Regions from separate parts of the Homo sapiens genome. Here all the other regions are reported to be linked to region 4. Evidence: microRNA targets listed by miRTarBase, many of them from high-throughput screens and not tested one by one. Region 4 holds a microRNA gene; each other region holds the end of a gene's coding sequence.
What was found. Region 4 holds the annotated microRNA hsa-miR-6749-3p (CUCCUCCCCUGCCUGGCCCAG, at 1,050-1,070, shown strand). A microRNA usually pairs through its seed, bases 2 to 8, with sites in the 3' UTR of a target mRNA and lowers its output. Matches are read on the target gene's strand: a 7mer-m8 pairs with bases 2 to 8, a 7mer-A1 pairs with bases 2 to 7 and ends in A, and an 8mer does both.

Region 1 (3,108 bases), not on the chromosome of region 4:
AGGAGCAGCCCCAGGAGCACAACCTGAGATTTCTAAGCTTGCAGGTTACAAAAAACAAAAAAAACAGAGAAGCTGCCTGCGTAAAAAGTGCCACCCACGGAGGCAGGACACAGGCAGCGTGTGGCCCATTCAGCAGGCCCAGGTCTTCAGGGTGAGGCTGCTGGCGAGGGCAGGGGAGAGGGGGCATTCTGGTTAAAAGCAAGAAATTCCAAATACTCCTCCCTCGGGATCAACATCCCCCCAAATAAGGGCGCCCAGGGATCTTGCCTGGGGAAAGTGGGGTGCAGAAGGCATGACCCACGCCACAGCGGGCTCTCAGCACCCTTCCCACGTCCCATGTCACAGGCTCTTTGAGCTGCTGGCTTTGTTCTCTCAAGTCAGGTCTGAGGGAACCCATCGGCTTCTGTAATAATCGTATTGCCTATATACTTGAATTAAAAATATATGGTGGCTCAAATGTGCCCGCGTGTATGGCAGACGGTGCGGGGTGGAGGCCATCACGCCCATACACGTGTGCACACACAGCGGGGGGCTGTGTCCACGGACTGCGCACACAGTATATATTAACATATATATTGCTCAAGTATATATGCTATTTACAGTATATATCTCTATCAACATAAAACACAGGTATTTATAGGTGTGTACAATAGATACGTCCTAGGAAGTCTAGGGGACACACGACTCTGGGGTCACGGGGCCGACACACTTGCACGGCGGGAAGGAAAGGCAGAGAAGTGACACCGTCAGGGGGAAATGACAGAAAGGAAAATCAAGGCCTTGCAAGGTCAGAAAGGGGACTCAGGGCTTCCACCACAGCCCTGCCCCACTTGGCCACCTCCCTTTTGGGACCAGCAATGTACGAGTTTTGTTCTGGAGTTTTGTGCAAAACAAATTAACTTAAAAAAAAAAAAGTTGGTTTCTAATTAATGTGGTGGGCCTTCAACACCCACAAGGATTTTAAAGAACAGCTTCTCCTTCTGGTGGGCTTCCAGGGCTCAGAGGGTCCCACTCAGAGAAGCAGGGAACACTTTGTCAGGACTAGAAAATATCCCTTCTCCTCTGACCACAGAAACAGCACAACTCGGCTGGGTGTGGTGGCTCACGCCTGTAATCCCGGCATTTTGGGAGGCCGAGGCAGGCGGATCACTTAACTCAGGAGTTCAAGACCAGCCTGAGCAATGTTACGAAATCCCGTCTCTATTAAAAAATACAATAACTAGCCAGACGTGGTGGTGCGTGCCTGTAATCCCAGCTACTTGGGAGGCCGAGGCAGGAGAATCACTTGAACCTGGGAGGAGGAGGGTGTAGTGAGCCAAGATCGTGCCACTGCATTCCAGCCTAGGCAACAGAGCCAGACTCCCATCTCAAAAAAAAAAAAAAAAACCCCCGCCAGAGCCAAAACCACAGGGGCCCTTGGTCCTGCTCATTCAGAAAACCACCCCACTGGAAGGGACACCACGGCTAACCCCATGCCTCCTGGACATGACCACTCAGCTGGCCTGCCACCTGGCTGTCCACCTCCCCATGGCCCTCGGGTTCCCTCACCCCCTCCGGTGCTCAGATAGAACTACAGCTGGTTGGTGGGAGTTCCCATGTGGGGTGCCAGCGGCTCCAGCGTCTTGTAACAGATCTCTGCTCCTAGCTTCCCTTCAGAAGAGAGGGCCCAGGCTCCTGTGACATCTCCCGATTCCCACTGCCTGTCCCTGGAGCCACAGAGCACCAGCTTAGTGACACAGAGCCTCCAGGCTCCCTTGACAGAACTCAAACAGGTCCTATCCCTGCCAAACAGAAACTACCGCCAAGAGCACCCTGGGTGCAAATACATTAAATAAAAAACTAAAACAAAGTATGGTTTTCTCTATTAAGGCTCAGTTAAGCTGCCTCCTGGGTCAAGTACTCATGAATGCCACAGCCCCCAGCCAAGGGGCGGGTGGGCAGGCAGGTGACTTGGGGGCAGAGGAGGGAGGAGGACGGCGGGGAGTCCTATGCTGGTCTAGTTGTCTGTTGGGGAGGTGGGACACCACCTAAGAAACCTCAGGCCTGGAAAGCCAGGGATGTCCCTACTGGGGGAAGCTGAGGCTCTACCTGCCCAAGTCGGGTCCAGGGAGAGCCGAGGGGACAGGAGCTGGTGCTCCAGGCTGGTGGGTCTCCTGGGACCCTCCCTCCTCCCCCAAGGACTGAGTGCTTGTGGGGGAGGGTCTGGACAGGGCCCTCTTGGCAGTCTTGCTGGGAGTCGGGCCCAGGCCCTGTGGTTGGCAGGCGAGGTACAGGGGGAGTCTGGGTCCTTCCCAGCTCGGGGATCCCACCTGGGTTCCTGTCTGAGCCTCACCAGCCCCGATGACCTGAGGGGGCCACGCTGGCCTCCACTCCGAGGGAACCAGCCCTGAGCTGATGGAAGCAGAGACCAGTGACCACAGTACTCACCCCCAAACCCTCCAGGGCACCCCAAACTCGGCCCCACCCCGCCAGCCCCAGCCCTGCAAGGTGACATGACAGCTGGCACACCGGTGTCTCGCAGGAGGGACCGGCTTCCCTCGGCATCTGCCCCTGGCCGTGGGTGAGGCCGGATGAGAAGGCGGATCAGCTCACAAGCTCCCTGGGCCTCCGAAAGCATTTTCCGGGGTGGGGGAGGTAGGGAAGAGAAAGGTCGTTCTCTGGAGGGTCGGGGGGCTCCGGGAAGGCAGGAGGGCATGGAGAGGCCTTGGCGTGGGCCCCTGCCCTGGAGGGATTGGCAATCGAGGGAGTCTCCCACAGAGGCCCCTTCCTCAGGGTCCCCAGGCTGATTTTCCAGTCTGTAGAGAAATACTGCAAGATCAATCTTCAGGGTTAGGGCTGGGCCCGGGCGGCGGCAGGGAGGAGCAGAAGAGACCCTTCTAGTGCTTCTCTGCTTGGCTGACCTTCAGGGCACTGATGACACCATTGATGTTCTCTTCGGGGACCTGTGCAGGGGTAGAGGAGGCAGATGCCTGCCCGTGAGCCCAGGAACCTGCTTCCCCACCCCGGCCCTGCCCTGGAGGGGTCTGGCGCTGGACACTCACAAGTGCATGATCAAACTTGAAAGTACTGATGTAGTAGGCTGGGATGTCTGCAGCAGCCAAGGGCTCT
Region 2 (3,121 bases), not on the chromosome of region 4:
CTCCGGCCATGGCCGACAGCGGCGATGCTGGCAGCTCCGGCCCCTGGTGGAAATCGCTCACCAACAGCAGAAAGAAAAGCAAGGAAGCCGCAGTGGGGGTGCCGCCTCCCGCCCAGCCCGCTCCCGGGGAGCCCACGCCACCTGCGCCGCCCAGCCCGGACTGGACCAGCAGCTCCCGGGAGAACCAGCACCCCAATCTCCTCGGGGGCGCCGGCGAGCCCCCCAAACCAGACAAGTTATACGGGGACAAATCCGGCAGCAGCCGCCGCAATTTGAAGATCTCGCGCTCCGGCCGCTTTAAGGAGAAGAGGAAAGTGCGCGCCACGCTGCTCCCGGAGGCGGGCAGGTCCCCGGAGGAGGCAGGCTTTCCTGGTGACCCCCACGAGGACAAGCAGTAGCCCCAATAGCCTGCGCGCTCCAGGACTGCCTACCCAGCACTACCCCAAACCCCCAGTTCCAAACCCGAGACTTCAGGCCCGCCCCCTTACGCGTTGTCTCATTCCACCAAATTCAGAATATTTACACAATGCCTTCATGATTTTATTTTTCTGGAAATTGAAGTGTCAATTGGGTTCTCAATATTTCATGACTCCAAGGATGCATTAAATATTTATTTGTGGTAAGAGAAGATACCTGCCGCGGAGGAGGGTGGCATAATTATTTTTTTTTCAAAAAGCTATTCTGGGGCCCTGGCCCCCTGGCTCCTGTCACAGCTCAGCTTGAACTCTGTAGCCTCTCAAATGAAGAAGGTGGCTGTTATTTAGGACTCTGTGGAAAGCAAATCACAGTGCTGTTTTTAATGCCTGAGAAATGCACTTTAGGGGTAGACTTATACCTTAAGTGAAGGAGTGGGGGAGGAAGAAGCATTCTTAAGTAGAAGCATTTTAAAATAAGGCAGGATTGCTTTTAATGTTAAACTACAAAACTGTACAGCCTATTTTAGTGTGGACTATTAAAACCCTTGCACTGTAAGGCTTAAGGTGACTTTTGTATTTTTTCCATTCCAAGACTGAATCCCATCATACTTAAAAGCAGGCAGGCAAAGTCCGAGGTGAGAGTTAATCATTTGCCACACAACATAACAGTGACTAGTGGAAAGCTGCAGGGAAGAGAATATTTCTGGAAACCAGCAACACCTGGACTGGAACTTGTTAGCCAGATATCCCTATTTATCAGCCAAATTCGAGGAAGGGAGAGAGGTACCAATTCATTATTCCTAAATTCACCTTTTACTTCAGTGCATTTTCATAGACTATAGTAAGTTACAATGCTAGTAATACATCCTTTTCAGTATCCATTGTTAAACTTACTAACGATTGTCTAAAATCAAAAAACAAGGCCAGGTACGGTGGCTGATGTCTGTAATGCCAGCACTTTGGGAGGCCTAGGAAGGTGGATCACCTGAGGTCAGGAGTTCAAGACCAGCCTGACCAAAAAGGTGAAACCCTGTCGCTACTAAAAATACAAAAATTAGCCGGGCGTGGTGGCAGGCACCTGTAGTCCCAGCTACTCGGGAGGCTGAGACAGGAGAATTGCTTGAACCTGGGAGACAGAAGTTGCAGTGAGCAGAGATCGTGCCACTGCACTCCAGCCTGGGCATCTGAAGGAGACTCCATCTCAAAAAAAAAAAAGACTGAACTCTGCGCAGCTAAAGAGGTGGGGGTATTTTCCCCACCCCTTTGCTTTAAAAGCTTATTTCCTTAAAGTATGCATTTATCTAGTTTCAGACCCTTTAGATCTAACAACCTGAAGATTCTTAACAAAAAGCTGTTCGCTTTTATTATGAACTTCAAGAAAAAGAGTAAACGAATACCATTTGCTTTGAGAAAATTACAAGAGAGTTATTGTAGTCGTTAAGAGGCACTGGGATCTTTTCCCACCACAATTCAGTTCATTTATAAACACCCAGAAATGCATGGCAGGAAAATTATATTGATCAAAGTGTATATCTTTGTAGATAATGACAAGCAGGAACTTAATTATAGCTTCTCGATTTGTATATGTAGACAAGCTATTTTTTTGTTTCTCCCAAATTAGTAATTTATAAAGTAGCAAAACAGTTCGATTGTTAAAAGAAATTTAACAAAGAAATTTGATGAAGATGGCTGAAATGAATTTAAATTAATGAATCAAGCTTTGGTGCCAGCAGAATAATACAGCTAATTTTGATACATGAGTTTCCACATACCAAAGGCCTTACACTAAAGGAAAGTGTATATCTAGAGGTTATGAACACCTTAAATTAAAAGAAAGTATGTGAGAGGACTTTTTTAAGCATGAAAAGACATTTTCATTGTATACGTAAAACTGGAAAGTGTGTGACCAAAATCTCATCCAGGTGGGCTTCCTGGATGAGGCAGACTACATTCAGTTTAAATGGGCCTACCATCTCTAGATTCAGAAAAAGAAGAGGGAATTGAGACTTGGCATGAAAAAAGAATTCATGATAAGGGACAGGATTGGGGGTTGGCAGAGCAACGGGAGTGAATATAGCAAATGTTGTCAAATAAGGCTTTGGAAAACCTTCAAAAAGTATTTCAATTTCACTCCGTAGAAAGTAATCAAAATTAGAGTAGGTAACTACCCAAAATGTTCTCTCCCTCCTTCAGGAAGACCGATAGATCAGGACTGTACCTATTTATAAAATTAAGTCTGCAATTACATAAGTTTAAAATCCTATACTAACCCTTTCATCCAGTTTTATTGTTTTAAAGAACTTTTTTCTTTAAAATTACTGTAGATGAACAAAACATTGGCAAGTTTCAAGGTTCTGTGTCTAATTTTGGATCCCATCCAAATCTACAATTGCTGCAGATAATCAATAGCAGACATATAGTAGAGCAATGGAACTTATTACCATATTAACATGACATCTTTACCCCACTGTTCTGAAAGAATTTAAAACCATACTAATGCAGTTATGACAGTGAATGCAATTCACAATCTGCCATTGAGGTTTGTAATTACATCGTTTTAAAGCAGTCCTAAATTATGCAGTGGGAGGAATACACTGATTTAATCCCAACTCAGTGAAATCAGAAACCAAGCAAAATTGGTGGGACAGAAAGAGCATAAGGAAGATGAGAGAATTTGACGACGTGTCTTGCTGGGATTTATGTGC
Region 3 (3,121 bases), not on the chromosome of region 4:
CATCAAGTGCAGGGTCTGCAAAATATCTCAAGCCCTGATCTTCGGAGCAGTTTAGGGAGCCTCCAGCGGCACGACTCCTAAACCATAATTTCTGATCTTGTGGCTAATGTTAGTTCTACAAAGGCAATCTAGTCCCCAGGCAAGAAGGAGGTCTGCTTTGGGAAAGGGCTGTTACTGTCTTTGTTTAAACTATAAACTAAGTTTTTCCCAAAGTTAGTTCAGCCTATGCCTAGGAATGAGCGGGGACAGCTTGGAGGTTAAAAGCAAGATGGAATCAGTTAAGTTAAATCTCTTTCACTGTCTCAGTCATCATTTTGCAAAGGCAGTTTTAGGCCTCTCCCTCTCCTCTCATCACAGCCCACTGGCTCCCTGATGCTGCATGTGGTGACAAGTTGGGACCTGGGCCCAGGCCGCGGGAACTCTTGCCTCAGGCCTGGGTTAGCTGTAGGCTGGGCTGTCTTGGTTCCTGAGCCAGGTTCCAGCATTTCCTGGTGGGAGAGTTTGGGACTGACACAGTGTGTCTCCCAGAAGAGCGTGCCTTTTCTCTCCCTCTGTCCCAGGCAGAAGGGCAGATGCGGGCAACATCACCGAGGCTGTCCAGCTGCCTCACCAGGCTTCCGTGGTTTCTCAAAACCCAGGGTCCTGTGATCCCTGGTCCATGGCAGAGGTGAGGATGGGAGTGAAGCCAGTTACGTCACCCCCTCCTGCCTGCCCAGTGGACAAGCACAAGCCCGGGGTCAGGATGCAGAGGGAGCAGTCCGGGATTCTGGGGCAGTCGTTCCATGCAGGAGCCGCTCTGAGTGTGTCGGCACAGTCCTGGCCAGTCCAGCAGATGGACTCTGGTGGCAGGGGCTGGGGAGCAGAAGGGGAGATGGGAAGCTGGCCTCCAGCCCAGCAGGAGCACCCCCGACCAAAGGGGTGGTGGAGGGGCTGAAGACAAGCTCAGCACCCGTTCTCTTCACCAACAGGCCACAGGTGCCCAGGAAAATGAGCAATACGAGATCGGAGCATTGATAAAAGTGACTTTATTGAGTTGTCCAGGGTCTCCTTACTTCCCCCAGCTCTGCAGTCACCCATCCCCAGCTCAGTCATAGAGGAGACCACCTTCCCCCCAGAAGAAGGAGCTCAGGAAACTAATCAGTGTATAAAGGAGAGGACGGAGAGAAATAGGGAGTCTCTGGTTAGGGACCTTGAGTCGGAGGAGGGGATCCTCAGTAGAGGGCACAGGAGGAAGAGGAGCCTGGGGACAAGAGAAGCAAGAAGCCAGGGGAGGCTCTCAGTAGAGGCGGAGGGAGAAGACAGGAGGAGCCCACAGTGTCCTTTTAAATCTGGCCACAGCCTGGCTTTTGACCTCGCCTCCAGCTTGGTTCCACCCACCTTCCCCTTGCCCCTCTTTGCACCCTCTCTTCCAGCCCCAGGGTGAGTCTTGCTGCTGCCCAGACATTCTGAGTTGTTGCACATCTTCCTTGCCTTGTCCACACCTTTCATCTAGGGGCCTTCTCTGCTCTTGCTTTTCTGTCCAAAGCTCTCCCTGTTCTTTTTTTTTTTTTTTTTAGAGAAGGTCTCGATCTGTGGCCCAGGCTGGAGTGCAGTGGTGTGATCTCAGCTCACTGCAACCTCAACCTCCTGGGATCAAGTGATTCTCCTGCCTCAGCCTCATGAGTAGCTGGGATTACAGGTGCCTGCCACCACGCCCGGCTGATTTTTTGTATTTTTAGTAGAGATGGGTTCCTTGGAGGTAAGAGAGGTTGATGATGGCAGATTCTCAGAGACCTAAGGCAAAATCATTTCTAGCAGTTTGAACTCCCTTTAGTCCAATGGGGGAGGCAGTCCCTCCCTTTGGAATAAGCTCCCCGGGTTGCCTCTCGCTTTGATGCCCCTCACTCTGTAGGAGACCTCAGTCTTAGAGTTGCGCTCTCGAAGCCTCTGTTTGTGAGCCCAATTCAGGAAAGGGTGGGGCTTCACTCCCCCTCAGCTGGGGGCTCCCTCAGGGTACCCTTGGCTTTCTCTGCCACTCCAGGCCTCAGCTCTGTAGGGCAGGAAGAAGCTGGTGGTGGACGGGCTGTGTGGGCCTGTAATCGCCCAAGGGGTTCACGTTGCGTGCTGCCTTGGGTGATCCACCCACCTGAGTCAGTTCGGGCCTGGCGCGCTCACGCCTGTAATCCTAGCACTTTGGGAGGCCAAGGCGGGCAGATCACGAGGTCAAGAGATCAAGACCATCCTGGCCAACATGGTGAAACCCCAACTCTACTAAAAAATACAAAAATTAGCTGGGCGTGGTGGCGCGCGCCTGTAGTCCCAGCTACTCAGGAGGCTGAGGCAGGAGAATCACTTGAACCTGGGAGGCAGAGGTTGCAGTGAGCGGAGATCCTGCCACTGCACTCCAGTCTGCTGACACAGTGAGACTCCATCTCAAAAAAAAAAGAATCAGTTCAAACATCCTACAGCGAAGCCTTTGAAATCGCCCTGGGCCAGGTGCAGGCTCCCTCCTCAACCTGCCCCCCCACAGCCCCTCCTCCCTTGCTCCCACCCCACCTGCTGTCATTCTCTGTTATGGGTTTTCTGAGTCTAGCACAATCCAGGCACAGAGTAGGCACCAAAAAACTCCAGGCACCAAAGATGGTGTTGGTTAAGACGACACAGAGAGAGAGAGAGAGAACCAGCACAGGTATTTAGGGGGAATAAAGGAGGGAGGGGTGGGATGGGCTTGGGGGCAGGGGTGAAGCTGCACAGGAGGCAGAGGGGGTCAGAGCAAAGGAGAGGGCATAGGGGCAGGAGTGTGGGGTGTGGCTGGAGGAGCATCCTGGGTCATCAGACCACTGTGCTGAGGATGGAGGAGTCCTCGGAACGCACGGGCAGCACTGGGGCCCGCTTGAGGGAGCGCCTGGTCTCATCTCGGTTCTGCCACACATAATGCACCAGATAAGCCACCATGAGTGTCAGCCAGCCCCCCATGGTGACCAGCAGGGCCACATCGGTGCTCCTCCGGGCCCCACCCCACCCCGACCCACACAGCTCTTCCTCCCCTGCCAGCAGCAGGAACTCCTGCCCCACGAGGTCCGGTCGGGCTCCTGAGCCACACACGATGCCTGTCCCAGTGCCCGGCACCAGCCTCACCTGC
Region 4 (3,121 bases):
TACACCTGGATCAACCGGATCCTTCCCCCAGGTGCTGGGGCCGGGGCCGGGTGGAAGGGGGCCACAGGACCTTTCTCTCGCCTCTGCTGCAGATTATGTCTGTGTTTTGGATGTTGACCTCTTGGAACTTGTGATTAAAACCTGGAAAGGGAGCACCGAGGGCAAACTGGTGAGTGAGGCTGTCACTCTGGCTCCTGGAGCCACAGCAGGTGCAGGGGCCAAGGGAGTCTTCAGGGGCTGCTGCTCCCTCACGTGCCTGGGCTCCGGACACAGTTCATGCCTGCCCTTCCTGGGCTGCAGTTAGCGCCCCTCCTGCAAAGGGCCATAGTACAGCCCTGGTGGGGGTGTCCCTTGATGCTGGCTGAATGAATGAATGGGTTTCAGCCCTGCCACCAGAGGACGCGGCAGCCAGGGCACCAGCGAGGCCCTGGGAATCAGCCACCTTTGTAGGTCCCCGGATTCATCTCCTGTAAGATGGAGATAACCTGCCCTGCCTCGCTAGGCATGCAGAGCCCTTCACGGGGAGTGGGGTAGGGTGGGTGGGCACACTCCTGCTTCCTTGGATGGCCCTGGGCCAAGCCCCTTTCACCCTCTGGGTGAACAGTTTGTTCATCTGTTCAGTGGAGTTACTGGGCAGGTCATCCACTCCAGGAGAGACCATCCCTGTTCTGCCTGTGGCAGGATCAGAACTGCGGTGCCCTCCCAGCGAGCGGGTGGGGCCAGCAGGCAGTGGCCCCTGTGTTCACATAGCTGCTCCCCCCACCCCGCCCCTGCAGAGCCAGCCACTATTCGAGCTGCGCTGCTCCAACAATGTGGTACACGTGCACAGCTGTGCCGACTCCTGTGCCCTGCTGGTCAACCTGCTCCAGTACGTAATGAGCACAGGCGATCTGCACCCCCCACCCCGGCCCCCCAGCCCCACGGAGATCGCCGGCCAGAAGGTACAGGTGAGGCCTGGCCACACAGGCTACCAGAGCTCGGCCAGGCCCCTCCCCTGCCATGGCCCTCGGGCCTGGGGTTGGGGGAGCTCTGTCCTGTCTCACTCATTGCTCCTCCCCTGCCTGGCCCAGCTCTCGGAGAGTCCTGCCTCTCTGCCCTCGTGCCCCCCAGTGGAGACGGCCCTCATCAACCAGCGTGACCTGGCCGACGCCCTCCTGGACACCGAGCGCAGCCTACGGGAGCTGGCCCAGCCTTCAGGTGAAGTGGGGGTGCTGTGGGGACAGCAGACACAGTCAGGCACCCACTGTGGGCGCCTCTCCAAACTGGCCTCTCTCCTATAGGTGGCCACCTCCCTCAGGCGTCGCCCATCTCCGTCTACCTATTCCCAGGTGAACGGAGTGGGGCCCCACCCCCTTCACCACCTGTCGGGGGCCCTGCTGGCAGCTTAGGGTCATGCTCAGAGGAGAAGGAAGATGAAAGGGAAGAGGAGGGCGATGGAGACACCCTGGACAGTGATGAGTTCTGCATCCTTGATGCTCCCGGCCTGGGCATCCCGGTGCGTGGTGGGAGGGATGGACCAGTTTGCCGTCCAGGCAGGTGTGTTTGGAGCGGGGACGGAACACTCAGGGGTGGTTGCCTGGCCATCTGGAGCTCCCGTGGTGAGAGAAGCAGGCAGGAGGTGGTTGCCATCACCTCGGGGGTGGTGCTAGGTCTGTGCCACCCTAGGGAGGCAGCCCTGATGCTGGGCTTTGATGGAGTAGGGGGATTTCCAGAGGAAGAGGAGGCCTGGTGTTTTGGGCAGAGGGACTGGGAAATTCAAGGGATGGAGGAAGAGGAGAGGGCAGTTAGCAAGAGGGATGGAGAACCATGTGGCTGCAAGGGCCAGTGGGAATGTCTGAACTCACCCAGGTCTTAGGAGGCAGGGCTGGCAGGAGCCTGGCATTCTCAGGCTCCTCTTGGACAGACCACTCAGGCATAGACTCGGGTGATAGCAACCCAGGAGTGTCATCTTTCATCAAAAACAGGGAGGAGGCCAAGCATGGTAGGTTACGCCTGTAATCCCAGCAATTTGGGAGGTCAAGGTGGGAGAATTGCTTGAGTCCAGCAATGAGAGATTAGCCTGAGCAACATAGTGAGACCCCGTCTCTACAAAAAATAAAAATAAAATTAGCCAGATATGGTGGCACATGTCTGCAGTCCCTGCTACTCAGGAGGCTGAGAATGGAGGATCGCTTGAGCCTAGGAGGCAGAGGTTGCAGTGAACTGTGATTGTGCCACTGCACTCCAGCCTGGGTGACCGAACATGACCCGACCCTGTCTATAAAAAAAAAAAAATGAAAAAGAAGTGAGGCCAGGTTGCTGGGGCTGGGGGCAGCTGGGCTGGATCGAACATCTGTGTCACACGTCTACCTGGCCTCCCTGCAGCCCCGAGATGGGGAGCCTGTGGTGACACAGCTGCATCCCGGCCCCATCGTTGTGAGGGACGGTTACTTCTCACGGCCGATCGGCAGCACGGACTTGCTGCGGGCACCTGCCCATTTCCCAGTGCCCAGCACTCGGGTGGTGCTACGTGAGGTCTCCCTCGTCTGGCACCTCTATGGGGGCCGAGACTTTGGCCCCCACCCCGGCCACAGGTGAGGAGGAGCGGGTGCAGGTGGCAGCTGGTGAAGGTTGGGGCTCAGGCTGGTCCAGGTCTGACTTTCAGCAGCTGGAGACCTTGAGCCCCATCCACCCCAGGTGGGCCTCAGTTTCCTCATCCTTCCTTATCCCGCCTGCCTTCCAGGACTGGGGCTAGCGGGGGTCTCTTGTCCCAGGCTAAAAGGCCCGCTGAGGACGGGGAGGGAATGGGGTTCCTCTGAGTCAGCTTGGCCCCTGTCCCTCTTCCCAGGGCAAGAACTGGCCTCTCAGGTCCCAGGAGCTCCCCTTCCCGCTGCTCTGGCCCCAACCGGCCCCAGAACTCATGGCGCACGCAGGGGGGCAGCGGGCGGCAGCACCATGTCCTCATGGAGATCCAGCTGAGCAAGGTGAGTGGGGTGGCGAGTGCCTACTACACGTGTGTGTCATAGAACAACGGGCCTTGTTCTCGATGTCACGTGTAGCAATGACTAATGCAGAGGAAAACCCCTGCCTTTGTAGTGGAGGAAGCCAGGCAGGGACCAAGATGTATCGAGTGTGTCCGATG
Region 5 (3,000 bases), not on the chromosome of region 4:
TTGATGGAATGGGACAGAAGGGAGGCCTTGGCACGTTTGTTACCGAGCCAGTTGATTAAAGGGGGCTCTGAAGGAAGGGATCAAATGCCTTAAAAGTGAGAAGTCCCCACCCAGACCATCACCATGACACTGCCTTCTAGGTGTGAGAGAGCACTGTAAACCCCTCTGGGCTGGACCTGGAGTGTTTCCATGCATTCTCTGTGTTTCCGTTTCAGCGTGGGATCGAAGGGACAGTACCTTATGTCACAACGGATTACAATTTTAAACTTCCTGGAGCATCAGAGAAAATTGGAGCAAGAGAACCTGAGGAGGCACATAAAGAGAAACCATACCGAAGACCTAAGTTCTGTCGAAAAATGAAGTGATGCTCGCGTTTTTAATAAGGGAAGAAACTTTCCTACCAGAAAGCTTTGTCTCAAGCCTGACCACAAGAGACATGATGGAGTTTCATGGCCATGAATGGTGCCCTTATTAGCAACAGTGTTTTTTGTGTAATTCGTGAATGTCATATAGTAGTCTTAAGTTTCTCTTTTAAAGCTGCATGAGCTAGAATTTGTTCTAGTCTTCTGTGTGATACTCATACTTGCTGTCCAGAGGGAGTAAAACAGCAGAGAACAGTTTGTGTGCCATTAAAACAGAGATTCCTCAGAAAGTTCTTCAGGGACCTGGTTATTAGAATCAGGATAAAAATAAGGAAACTGGGGCCATTACAATGTACCGAGAAGGAAGGAAGAAGGCCGACCTGCAGGATCTCAAGCATAATGGATACAAGGGCTCGCCACGGGCCTTGCCTGAGCCATGTGCAGAGCTGGGGTCCAGCGGTCTGCTTCCTTGGAGCCAGTGTGGATGGTTACAGCCCATCCATTTGGTGCAGTTGTACTTGGTCTGTTATATTCAATCAAGGTTTAATAGATAGGGCTGGGCATGGTGGCTCATGCACACCTGTAATCCTAGCACTTTGGGAGGCTGAGGCGGGAGGATTGCTTGAGCCTCGGAGTTCCAGGCTGGAGTACACCAACTACTCCAGCCTGAGCGACAGAGTAAGACCTTATCTTTTAAAAAAGAAAAGAAAAATTTAAACGGGTTTGATAGATATAAATTTGGACCCAAGAGCCCTTCCTTTTTTTTAATCCTGAGGTTTTATGCTGAGGAAATTTCTTTCAAATCTGGAAAACCTCGGGGCCAGGCGCAGTGGCTCACGCCTGTAATTCCAGCACTTTGGGAGGCCAAGGCAGGCGGTTCACGAGGTCAGGAGATTGAGACCATCCTGGCTAACACAGTGAAACTCCGTCTCTACTAAAAATACAAAAAACTAGCTGGGCGTGGTGGTGGGCGCCTATAGTCCCAGCTACTCAGGAGGCTGAGGCAGGAGAATGGCATGAACCCAGGAGGCGGAGCTTGCAGTGAGCCGAGGTCACGCCACTGCACTCCAGCCTGGGCAACAAGAGCAAGACTCCATCTCAAAAAAAAAAAATAATAATCTGGAAAACCTCTTCTGGGGGCTCTTATAAAAGTAGATTTGTCCAAATTGACTTCTGATCTGAGGCCAGAGACAACCACAGGGCAGAGCTGGAGACTGGGCTGTTTTGAAGGAAGAAGGACTGGCAGACCAGCTCTTGGGAAAGCTCCATTATTGCCTGTGGGAGGCTGGACCTGAACTTGCACCTATGAACAACCCTGCCATTTAGAGCTTTTTCCTGGGGGTGCCGGCGGCTGGTGACCAGACTGCCATTCTCCACGTTCTCCCTGGTGCTTCCGACTCTGTCCTCTAGGTTGGAAGTGGTTTGTGTAAACGGGTGATGGGACCAGGTCACATCATTTCTGCATTTAAGACAGCAGGATACTTCCTGGGGCTGAGGTTCAAACTGGTATTGTGACCACCGCTTTGACAGAATTCCATCTTCCCAGCATGATCACATTGTAAGACTATTAGGATGTGTGGGTTTTAACACTTATATACACTTATACAACTGTTGGTTATCATTGTCTTTAGTATTTTACAGTGGCCCCTCAGCACCTCTTAGACCCAACAGCAAAGGACTTAAAATAAGCACAGGAAACCTTGCTATGGTGATTAGTTTTGATACCTTTGAGACAATTGAGTCTAGCTTCTTAGTTGCCCCTTATTTATGTTGAAATCTGGCTCATTCATATGATGTTTTACTGTGCTGGCCTTGTAAAGAATTTTAAGACAATCCATCACCATCAATGTTTTGCCTTTCTCCACTTTCGTGTATCTTACAGTTATACTCACTGGAGGTCATTTGCAGCAAGGCTCTGGAAGAATGAAACTGGTGCCCTGTAATTGCATTTGCATTCAATCTAGGTTTGCCTTCAGGCTTTAAATGCGGCCTGTATGAAGGTCAAGTCTTTTTCTTCAGTCCCTATCAGTAAAGAAAAATCGTTGCCTCTAGAGGGAGCTATCAGCTGTGGGTCAGGTGGCCGTACTGGGGCTAGAGTTGGCCCAGGAAGCTGTACAGGGTTTAGGGAAGGAGGTTCGGAGACAGGGAGCCAAGGCCTCTGTCAGGTCTAGCTTGTGCCGGTCAGACCTGCAGCAGCACCATTCTCCAGGATGACAATTCATCCCATTATTGATGGCAGTGGCCTTTTTATCCTTTTTTTTTTTTTTTTTTTTTTTTGAGATGGAGTTTCGCTCTTGTTGCCCAGGCTGGAGTGCAGTGGCGCAATCTGGGCTCACTGCCACCTCCGCCTCCCGGGTTCAAGTGATTCTCTTGCCTCAACCTCCCGAGTAGCTGGGATTACAGGCATGCGCCACCATGCCTGGCTGATTTTCTATTTTTAGTAGAGAAGGGGTTTCACCATGTTGGCCAGGCTGGTTTTGAACTCCTGTCCTCAGGTGATCCACCTGCCTTGGCCTCCCAAAGTGTTGGGATTACAGGCATGAGCCACCGCACCCGGCTGGTGGCAGTGGCTTTAAGGGCATTTAGAAGAAGGACAAGATTGGACTTTTTATCATTTCCACAGTCTGTTATGGGTCAG
Region 6 (3,121 bases), not on the chromosome of region 4:
AAAATTAGAATTTGTAGTAAACTTTACTTTCTCTCTTGTCACTTATATTAAAGGACAATGGGAAAGACTATGTGTGGTTTCTCTACCCAAATCCCTCCAAACAGAATTAATACGAATCCTGACTTTGGTTCAAGGGAAAAAATTACTTATCTTGATGTTCTTTCTCTTCTACATGTCAAAAATACCATCTGTAGCTCCTGATTTATTTATGGGTGTTCAGAATTCATCACTGTGTTTCCTCTGGGAAGTATATTACTTCTCCTGAGGAAAATGTTTAAGTGTGAGATTGGGGACATGGCTCATACGGTGTTAGAGCCTGTCAAGGAATATAGCAATCAGGCTTTGTCACAAATTGCTGATGACCCCTTTGTCACCTTGTGTATTTCTGTACTTTATTTAAGGTGAAGCTGAGGACATACTGGAAACAGAAAAGAGTAAATTGCAGCTGCCAAGAGGAATGATCACTTTTGAAAGCATTGAAAAAGCCAGAAAGGAACAGAGTAGATTCTTCATAGACAAATGAAATCATGCTTACCAATCAAATCTCAAAGCACAGAATTATTGACTTGAATCATGGTTTTTACAGTTTTTTAAATGCTCAAGATTTTGATATTATAGATTTTATTTTAAAATATTAAAATGCAAGATAGTTTTGAGCTATTTTAAAATAAAATTTATAACATTCAACACAAAATCATGGAGGTGCTCTAAATAACTTTTAGATTTCCTCTCTCTGTGTGCATTACCAATATCTAAGTGTAAAATTAATAAATTGTTTTGAATTCCTGGAAGCAAATGCCCAGCTGCTCTCATTTCTCTGTCACACATACTTTCCATACCACATTCCATTTCCACAGATGCTTCTGTATTTTGGATTTGTCAATTGTGTCCTGCCCCTACATGACAGAAAACAGTATTGTTTGACTAACATATATACTGCATTTTCTATGACTGGCACTGTTCTGAGTGTTTTGTACAAATTCTTGTAATCATCCCAATAATTTTATGAAGCAGGAATCATTTTATAAATGTGGAAACTGAAGCACAGATAAGCAGCTTGAACAAAGGCAGAAGCACGCAAGCCAAATCCAAGAAGTTGCTGCAGGTCATCCAATTTGGCTGGGCCAAAGCCATACTTGGCCAGGGCTTGGATTTGAACAAGTGTGGCTCCAGTGGCTGTGCTCTAAAAGGCCTTGACAAGGCCTTAACTGATGCTTAACCTGCAAAGAAAAGCTATAAAAGGGAAAAGGTAACAACATTCAAATAATGACTCAGGGCATAGTTGCTAGAGAGGTGGAAACAAGAGAGAGGTAGATTTGGATGACTGCCTTTTTATTTAGACTCACTGGGAAAACTCCTCATAAAATACTCCTATATATAAGTATTTCTTCAGATGCGAACCCTACATATAATATGCTCATTCCAAAGAGATTTATTGATACTACTTTGTGCCAGGCACTGTTGTAGACACTAGAGCTACATCGGTGAATAAGTAGACAATGTCCTATATCCTGGGCAGAGGAATATATTCTAGTGAGGGGTGGGATAATTGGGGCGGGCAACAAATTAACATCAAGATAAATAAGATCATTTCTAATCCTGGCAAATGCTTCAGTGGAAATGAAACAGAGTGATAAGAGAATGATTGGGTTAATGAGGTGGTGCTACTTTAGATCGGTACTGCAGACACTGCCTCTTTGCAGAGGTGACATTTGAACTGAGACATGGCATGGCCAAATAATAGAAAGAAGCCCAGGAAGAATAATAGGAGATTAAATATTAAGGTAGGAACAAGCATGAATATGATGTGGTCCCTACCTTCAAGGAGCTGACAACGTATCAACATGTGTTTTGTTACAATTTTAGCTTTAGAGAAACTTGAGCCAAGTCTTGAAGGATGCATAGAAGTTCTCCATGAAGGTAAACATTGAAGAGGAAGGGTGCCCCAAGCAGGAGAAGCAGCTTGAACAAAGGCAGGACCGTGCAAGCCAAATCCAAGGAATTGCTGCAGGTCATTCAATTTGGCTGCAGCAAGGGGTTCCTCATGTGGGAGACTTTTTCAGAAATGATCCTGGTGGAAGTACAATTCAATTCCTGAAGAGCCTTGGATGTAACAGCAAGCAGTTTGGACTCTTTCCTGAGGGTGATAGCAGTGAAAGAATGCAAAACGGGATTTTTACCCAAATTTGTAGATTAGAGGGGAAAGATCCCAGATCCCAAGTAATGAGGAGCTGCAATGATCCATCTGAGTGCTGACCAGTGGCCTGAATTAAGGCTACAGCCTTGGGAATGGACTCAAGATTATGAAAATAGAGAATAGCAGTACCAGGAAACCAGTTTGAGGTCACAGAGTGGGAGTTGTTTTCCCTGCATTTTTAATCTGTGTGGATTATCTAAGGCCCCTAGAGAACATGGGAAAGAAGAAGTACTGGGAGGAACACTGGTGGACTCATGAATGCCCAAGACCTAGTGCTGGTTGTAGGTCACACCAGAATCTGGAATTGTATTTCTTTCCCCACAATTCAATCATGCTATTCAAATGTTCCTGATATAGTCTAGCCAGAGCTCACCAAGAGTAGGTTTGATGCCTCTGCAAAGGCTGATCGGCTCAAGACCTTATCTGGGATTTTCATTGCTGGCAACATAGCCAGGCCCTGGGCCCCCTTAAGAACACCAGGCTGTTCAATTGTATTGGCTTCTTGGCTTCTTCCTCTGGCACTGACACTGAGTTTATTAATAATTCTACCTCAGTAGAGGCCCTGCTGAAAAACATACGCACACACTTACACTCATACTGTTGTTTGCTCCCAATTGTATAGTGAGGCAAAAATCAAAGTGGAGCTATTAAAAATGACCATGCAGCACAAGTATGTTGTAACATTTTTCAGTGTTATAACTGCTGATTATCCAAAGCTTTTCCTCTCATTATTACATTGTCCTTTTGTTGAAAGGAAAAACATTTCTGCTGTGATGCTTCTGAGCTATTTCTTCATTTATATTAATTAAATATTTATTTATGCTTATGATTAATCCCTAATTACCAACTAGACATCTGATGTTTCCAAATACTGAAACTTATATGGTCTTCTATAAGAAACTAGCTTATAATCATCACAAACTT

Region 1: the mRNA of CASTOR2 is a reported target of hsa-miR-6749-3p. Seed matches in the 3' UTR shown: 7mer-m8 at 2,167-2,173 and 7mer-m8 at 217-223.
Region 2: the mRNA of PRR15 is a reported target of hsa-miR-6749-3p. Seed matches in the 3' UTR shown: 8mer at 853-860.
Region 3: the mRNA of LRRC3C is a reported target of hsa-miR-6749-3p. The part of its 3' UTR that is shown has no 7-base or 8-base seed match.
Region 5: miRTarBase lists NOL9 as a target of hsa-miR-6749-3p. Seed matches in the 3' UTR shown: 7mer-m8 at 974-980.
Region 6: the mRNA of PLGRKT is a reported target of hsa-miR-6749-3p. The part of its 3' UTR that is shown has no 7-base or 8-base seed match.

Annotation. Positions count from the first base shown.
Region 1 is chr7:75,024,468-75,027,575 of GRCh38, reverse strand. It overlaps CASTOR2 (cytosolic arginine sensor for mTORC1 subunit 2), which reads right to left. Exons shown (of 9, transcript NM_001145064.3): 8 at 3,042-3,108; 9 at 1-2,942. The coding sequence ends at 2,877. It also overlaps a transcript of RCC1L not described here. Among named protein-coding and RNA genes, the nearest start is that of RCC1L, 48 kb to the left of the region's middle.
Region 2 is chr7:29,566,322-29,569,442 of GRCh38, forward strand. PRR15 (proline rich 15) reads left to right here. Exons shown (of 2, transcript NM_175887.3): 2 at 1-972. The coding sequence starts at 9. The coding sequence ends at 398. Among named protein-coding and RNA genes, the nearest start is that of PRR15, 4.0 kb to the left of the region's middle.
Region 3 is chr17:39,944,425-39,947,545 of GRCh38, reverse strand. It overlaps LRRC3C (leucine rich repeat containing 3C), which reads right to left. Exons shown (of 4, transcript NM_001195545.2): 4 at 2,547-3,121. The coding sequence ends at 2,812. Among named protein-coding and RNA genes, the nearest start is that of GSDMA, 17 kb to the left of the region's middle.
Region 4 is chr11:64,900,336-64,903,456 of GRCh38, reverse strand. MIR6749 (microRNA 6749) reads left to right here and starts at 1,002; the gene lies at 1,002-1,070. It overlaps ATG2A (autophagy related 2A), which reads left to right. Exons shown (of 41, transcript NM_015104.3): 26 at 93-169; 27 at 777-941; 28 at 1,071-1,197; 29 at 1,281-1,495; 30 at 2,365-2,573; 31 at 2,828-2,963. RefSeq lists an enhancer at 3,007-3,121.
Region 5 is chr1:6,523,219-6,526,218 of GRCh38, reverse strand. NOL9 (nucleolar protein 9) reads left to right here. Exons shown (of 12, transcript NM_024654.5): 12 at 216-3,000. The coding sequence ends at 365. Among named protein-coding and RNA genes, the nearest start is that of NOL9, 30 kb to the left of the region's middle.
Region 6 is chr9:5,355,641-5,358,761 of GRCh38, reverse strand. It overlaps PLGRKT (plasminogen receptor with a C-terminal lysine), which reads left to right. Exons shown (of 6, transcript NM_018465.4): 6 at 402-791. The coding sequence ends at 523. Among named protein-coding and RNA genes, the nearest start is that of RLN1, 17 kb to the right of the region's middle.